Homo sapiens: one gene and its partner. The protein of the gene in region 2 purifies or fractionates together with the protein of the main gene of each other region. This does not show direct contact. Each region holds a gene or a part of one and is shown on either strand. Other genes may lie near its edges.

Evidence for each region.
Region 1: the proteins of STPG1 (region 2) and MIPEP purify together in Homo sapiens (affinity purification with mass spectrometry; one large-scale study listed by BioGRID and IntAct). This does not show direct contact.

What each region holds. Positions count from the first base shown.
Region 1 is NC_000013.11:23,837,401-23,840,900, forward strand, and holds part of MIPEP (mitochondrial intermediate peptidase), read right to left. Parts: intron 2,327-3,500; coding exon 2,249-2,326; intron 357-2,248; coding exon 152-356; intron 1-151. UniProt on the Homo sapiens protein: Cleaves proteins, imported into the mitochondrion, to their mature size.
Region 2 is NC_000001.11:24,375,783-24,379,282, forward strand, and holds part of STPG1 (O(6)-methylguanine-induced apoptosis 2), read right to left. Parts: intron 1-3,500. UniProt on the Homo sapiens protein: May positively contribute to the induction of apoptosis triggered by O(6)-methylguanine.

The DNA of each region.
Region 1 (3,500 bases), on a different chromosome or scaffold from region 2:
ATGGGGAGGGCAGGATGAGGCAATCTGAGATAAAGACCACAGGACACGGTAAAATGATCACATTTTCCAAATAAAAAGCCCCTTTCCCAATTCAAAGAAAATGTATGTTTGTAAAGGACTGTAGTAAATAAAAGCCCTCCTCATGGCTCACCAGTGACGTGTTGGTAACGAGTACGTCCTAGCATTGAATGCATGGCATGTCCCATTTCATGGAAAAGATTTTCCATCATGCTAGGAGTTAGCAAAGTTGGAGAACTCCTTGAGGAACGGGGAAGATTCAGCATAAGAACTACAACTGGGAGTTGATAGTCTCCATCTTCCTTTAGTCTGCCTCCACGGATAGTGAAATGGCAATCCTTTAAGAATCAGAAAACATAAAAGGAAAAGAAAGTATTTGGTAATGTGAAGAGTAAAACAGTCTTAATGAATATAAAATTTCACCAAAAATGTGTGAGTGCAAACTTTAACTTAATTATATTCTTATTCTATCTATTTACATATATACACCTTTTCTTGACATTTTTTATTCTGCTAAAATTTTAATTTTTTAAAACATCAAGAACACATTCAGTTTCTATGGATTAACTCATTACTTTGGTCCCAAAACATGCATTGAAATGATGCTGTGCCAGAAGCTGGAAACAAAGTCAGCAAAGAACTTACGAAGGGACACTAACATTTATTCTGAGTCCCTACTATGTGTCAGATAATGAACTAGTAGGTACTTTCCATGTCTCTTGGCTATTTTTTTTTCTTTTTTTAAGATAGGGTCTTGCTCTGTTGCCCAGGCTGGAGTGCAGTGTTGTGATCGCAGTTCACTGCAGCCTGGACCTCCTGGGCTCAAGCCATCCTCCTGCTTTGGCCTACTGATTGGCTGGGACTACAGGTGTGCTCCACCACACCCAGCTAAATTTTTAGATTTTTTTTTGTACAGATGGAGTCTTACTATGTTGCCAGGGCTGGTCTTGAACTCCTGGACTGAAGTGATCTGCCAGCCTCAGCCTCCTAAAGTTCTGGGATTACAGGCATGAGCCACCGCGCCCAGCCTCTCTTGACTTTTATCACTTGAACGAGATGGGATCTAAACTAGTGTAAAGCAAGGGATCCGGAGCCAGAATAACTTACTCTGAAACAGGCACTACACTGAGACTCACATACACTGTATCACTTATTCTCCACAACAACCCTATGTAGCAGGTATCTCACTTTTCAGATGATAAAACTAAAACTAGTCTTAGGATTATTAAATAACATGTCCAAGGACACCTAGCTAGAACTGCCACACCTTGGATCTGAACCCAGGCTGACTATTAGGAGCCAGGGCTCCTAATCACTAAAGTTGAGTCTCCACCACCCACCCATTTAAGCAAAGAGGAAGAACACTGGCCTCAGAGTCTGGTGACCTGCACCCTGTTCCTACCTTTCACACCTACTAGACAAATCATCTCGGAAAATAATTTGCTTCTGCAAGCCTCATCTCTAAAATGCTTCCTTGTCAAATCCCACAGTGGCTGTCCAGAATTCATAAGCTCACATCTGTTAAAATCTGTGCTTTGGAAATTGTGAATCACTATTCAAACATAAGGTACATTATTTCTGTTATAACTTATAACCTAAACTCTTGACATTTCCCATCAAGCTACATGAAACTGCTAAAGCTGACTGGCTGTCAAAGTCGGCCAATGCTAAAGAAAAGGAGATGAGCTGCCTCAAGTCTTCCACATAAGGAGCTACTTGGTGGTTGGTAAGGTTTCCACATGGAGTATCTTCCGCAGTTTTAGAATAGGTTCATTGTCGAGTATGGAAAAGAGTTAAAAGTTGGGGATCTGCTCAGGATGTATGCCTTCAAGTCCTAGCACTTCTGGCCAAGTAGCTTAACCTCTATGGCTTCAGTTTCCTCATAATGTGAGTAACTAGTCAAAAGGGTGAGGCGAACATTAAAAGGCTGATGTGTATAACGGGCTCAGTGCACTGTTTGGCACAAATAAGGATTCATAAAATGTCAGTTGTCATTGTTACTATAATTAATACCATGACCCAGATAAAAGTGACAAATATAGACTGATGTAATTATTTCCATAAACTTTTTAATTTTAAAATTCTATCTTAATTTCAAATGTATATATTTGGTAACCATCATTAGTAACTTTTAAATGTCATGGAATTTAAAAAATGATACAAAGTTCACATCAATACAAATGAAATGCCGATCGGTTCTAGAGAGACCAGTTTATAAAGAAAGGATCACCTGATGTGGTTTGTCTGCTCGCTGAAAAAAATCACAGTAAATGTACCCCAACAATCCTTCAGATTCATGAACAACAGCCTAGAAAAAAAAATTTAAATTTGGTGGTAAATGAGGCCATCTGATTCTCTAAAATCCCTAACACAAGAATCTGTATATTAAACATCCATAGCCACACATATAGACATTTTAATTACATTCTACACCCCACATTATCTCGAGATAGATTCTCTTTTCCCCGCATCCTCTTCTGCTCCATCTCTTGAATGATTTTGGTTTTGGAATTCTGTGTCCAGGACAGGAAATCCTCCTCATGAGGGCCTTTTGTCCTGACTGCCTATCCTCTACAATACCTTTACTAACCACCCACAAGAGCTGGGAAGAAGTGCTGGCTGGACAATTTTAGGAGCAAATTATTTTTCCTTCAAATCCTGGAATGTCGTGATATACGCCCAAGCAAATTATAACCCTTGAATTTGAAAACACCACAATGCAGCTCCCAGCTTGAGTTAAAAATCAGCAATATTACTATCTATCCCCTCTCCAAGAGACATAGCTTATAGGAGAGACTCAATCACTACTCTCCATCTTGCCTTCTTTGTTCTTTCAGAATTTAATGATTCCATCAAAGAGAACCCCGATTTTGTGCTTTAAAACTACCTGCAAGTATATATTTATTGTTCATCAAACATCTGTTAAGCACCTACTTGGTGCCAGGAACTCTTCAAGACACTGAGGATACAGAAGTGAATGCAACTGACAACAGTGCTGGACCCCGGTGGAGTGCACATTCTGCAGTTCTGGGGAAACCCTTCATCACCCGCATTTTGTCCTCTCAGTCTCCTCTTATAAATTTTTCTTTTTATTATATCTCAGCATTTTATCAATCTCTATCTTTTTTGGAAGTTTGTAATACAGATAGTGAAGTAAATCAATGCAGTGATGAACGTCCTCCCACCCTGACTCTCCTTTCAATCCCACCACCACACCTACTCTCCACTCACAAGACGTGGCCGAGAGACAATGAGACTGTTTACATTTCTTAAAATATAGTGAAGAAAGCAGTGTGGTAAGCATGCTAGCAAAAATCAAACAACAAAACAATACAAAGCCTTAGTGACACACACAGGTCAACAAAGCCTCAAATCCTATGAGGAAAAATTTAAAATATTCATGCCTCATATAAAGTGGGCCTTCACAGGAGAAAGATGATTGCTAGGTTTGAAGTTATTATCAAAGAAGTTAAATAAATCAG
Region 2 (3,500 bases):
CACCCAGACAGAAAAGCAACTGAAAAAGGGAGCATTTTTGTATACGCTGAGTGTGTGTCGCTGGAAGATTTCCCCATGGGGCCAGGAAAATATTCAGCAGGTTAAAAAAGACTGAAGCAGATTTATTGTATTGCCATGGAAAGAAATCTAAGAAGAAAATGCATGTGTGCTGTGTACAGAATAATGCTAATACTGGTGGAGGGACAGAGGTAGGAGAGAATATGAAAGAAATTGCATCTGGTTTTTGTTTTGTTTTGAGATGGGGTCTCACTCTGCCACCTAGGCTGGAGTGCAGTAGTGTGATCTTGGCTCACTGCAACCTCCACTTTCCAGGTTCAAGCAATTCTCTTGCCTCAGCCTCCCGAGTAGCTGGGATTACAGGTGTGTGCCACCATGCCTGGCTTATTTTTGTATTTTTAGTAGAGGCGAGGTTTCACTATATTGGCCAGGCTGGTCTCAAACTCCTGACCTCAGGTGATCTGTCCACCTTGGCCTCCCAAAGTGCTGGGATTACAGGCGTGAGCCACTGTGCCTGGCCTGCACCTGGTTTTTGATGCAGTGGTTTCCCTTGGGAAGTAGAATTATAAGGGACTTCCACTTTCTAATTAATGGGTTTCTACAGGGCTTGAATATATTTTATGATGAGCGTGTATTATTTTCAGGGTCATATTAAGACAATAATGAACAAAAAACATGCGCCTAAATGTATCTATTGGCAGAAGGACACAATTCTATCTTGGGAAGAGGTCCTTTCTAGATTAACAGCTGCATACTACTGGAAAGTTATTCCTTTGATGTCATAAACATTGATTGGATGCTTACTGCATCCCAGGACCTGTGCTGGGCATTGGAGACAGGAAGCCGGGTGAAGGAGTAGACAGTGATTCGGGGAGAATGGTGCATGAAACACTGACGGCAGCATCCTTCAGCTACAACCGGGAGGCTGCAGAGAGGGGCATCCGCACAGACAGTCGGTGCCTGTGTTTTTCTCCCAAGTAGCCTGGTTCCCACTTGGGACTGACAAAGGGGCAATGGCTAAGCCCCTTTCTGATCACTTTCTTGTATCACACCTTGCCATCTCTCCTGTTAGCATAATAATCTCCTCGCTGGTTTTCCAGAACCCACTCTCCAACCCACACTGCAGTCCATTCACCACACAGCAGCTGGAAGGAACTTTTTAAAAAATATGTCAGATTGGCTGGAAGCTGTGGCTCATGCCTGTAATCCCAGCACTTTGGGAGGCCGAGGTGGATGGATTACGAGGTCAGGAGTTTGAGACAAGCCTGGCCAACATGGTGAAACCCCATCTCTACTAAAAAAAAAAAAATACAAAAATTAGTTGGGCATGGTGGCATGTGCCTGTAATCCCAGCTGAGGCAGGAGAATTACTTGAATTGGGGAGGCGGAGGTTGCAGTGAGCCAAGATCGTGCCACTGCACTCCAGCCTGGGCGACAGAGCAAGACTCCATCTAAAAAAAAAGCATCAGATCACACCACCCCATACCTCCAGCCCCACTCATGGGCTTCCTAGGACCCAGAGAACAAAATGTGAACTTCCTCCTGGGATCTTCAGGGCCCTGTGTGAATTGGCCGGTGTCTGTCTGGTGCCCCCTTCTCCCTTCTCCTCTTGCTCATCCTACACTAGCCACTCAACCTTCCTGAAGGTCCTCGTGGGCTGGGCTCCTTGCTATACCAGGACCTTGGCACATGCTCTTTCTCCAACCCTGGCTCTTCCTCAATCCTTGGGTCTCAGTCTCGGAGCCTTCTCTGACCACCAAGTCAGAGAAGGCTGACTTGGTACTGCCAACCTCCATATCTCCCACATATTCTCCCTCAAGCTCCAGCTGTCCCTCAAAGTTGACCACAGTTTGTAATTATTTTGTTTGTTTACCTGTTCTTTTCTGAATTCCCCACTGGAATCTAAGCTGTATCACCAGCCTGGCACAGAGGAGCAACAGGATCCACAGAGGGAAGCCTGTCAGGGCTGGAATGAGGTGACTTTGATCATTCCCCAGCTTTCCACCCCAGCCATCCACTGGTGCCCACTGAAGTGCAAATGATGCCTTCAAGCTGGGTAACTGTGCAAGTCCCTTCACCTCTCTGAGCCTTAGCTTTCTCTTCTTTATACTGGGAACAAGATAATCCACTTTATGGATTCACTTGTGAGTATTAAATATGATTAATACATAACTCTTAGACCAGCACTTAGTACATGAGAAGTGCTTCATCCTCCTCCTCCTCCTCCTCATCATTTTCAGGCTCTGATTATGCCGAGGGAAGACTGCCTGGAGTTGGACTGCCCAGTATAGTAGCCACAGGTTGCATGTGGCTATTGGCCCTGGAAACGTGGCTGGCCCAAATTAAAATGTGCTGGAAGAATAAAACACATACTGGATTTTAAAGACTCACTACAAGGAAAATAGTCTTCCTCAAATATAAAATTCATAACTTTTATATTGATTAGTGTTGAAATGATAATATTTTGGATCTGTTGGGTAAACTATATTACTCAAATTAACTTCATCTGTCCCTTTTTCTTTTTAGATGTGGCTACTAGAAAATCTTAAATGAGGCCGGGCACGGTGGCTCCCGCCTGTAATCCCAGCACTTTGGGAGGCCGAGGCAGGTGGATCACGAGATCAGGAGATTGAGACCATCCTGGCTAACCCAGTGAAACCCCATCTCTACTAAAAATACAAAAAATTAGCCGGGTGTGGTGGCGGGTGCCTGTAGTCCCAGCAACTTGGGAGGCTGAGGCAGGAGAATGGTGTGAACCCAGGAGGTGGAGCCTGCAGATTGCACCACTGCTCTCCAGCCTGGGCAACAGAGCAAGACTCCGTCTCAAAAAAAAGCTTGAATCCATCATAGAAGGTGGGCAGGATTTTTGTAGTCAGAAAAATAATTATTAATTATCAATATTATGAAGGAAAAAAGGAAATGGTATAATAAATGTATAAAACCAAAATAGTTTGGAAAATGGCATAACATTAATGTCTTAAGTACAATTCATATCTTGCGCACTTCAGAGTGCTTTCACGTTCGTTGCCTTATGGTAACCCTGTAGGGCAAGTAGAATTGATTCCATTGTACAGTGGGGGCTGTGACTTACTTACTTGCTTGTATTTAAGGGTAAGTAAATACCCTTCATGTACTAACAAAGACAGCCCTACCAATCTCCATGTATTGTGTGGTCCTTGTGTGACTGGTGCTGTCCTGGGCATGAAGCATACATTATCTCATTTAATATTTGCATTAACACGATGAGGTGAACATACATCACCATTTTACAGATCAGTAAACTAAGCCCTGGAAAGGTTAAGGGACTTGCCGAAGGCCGCACAGTTAGAAAGTGGCAACAGATGAGAGCTAAACCAAACCTTCCTGAGTCCATCTCTTAACCATCCATGCCATTCTGCGTCAGTGAATACAAAGCGATCATAATTGGCACAGCAGGGCACGACTGTTAAAACACCTATTTTCTGATATGAAAGTTTATTTTC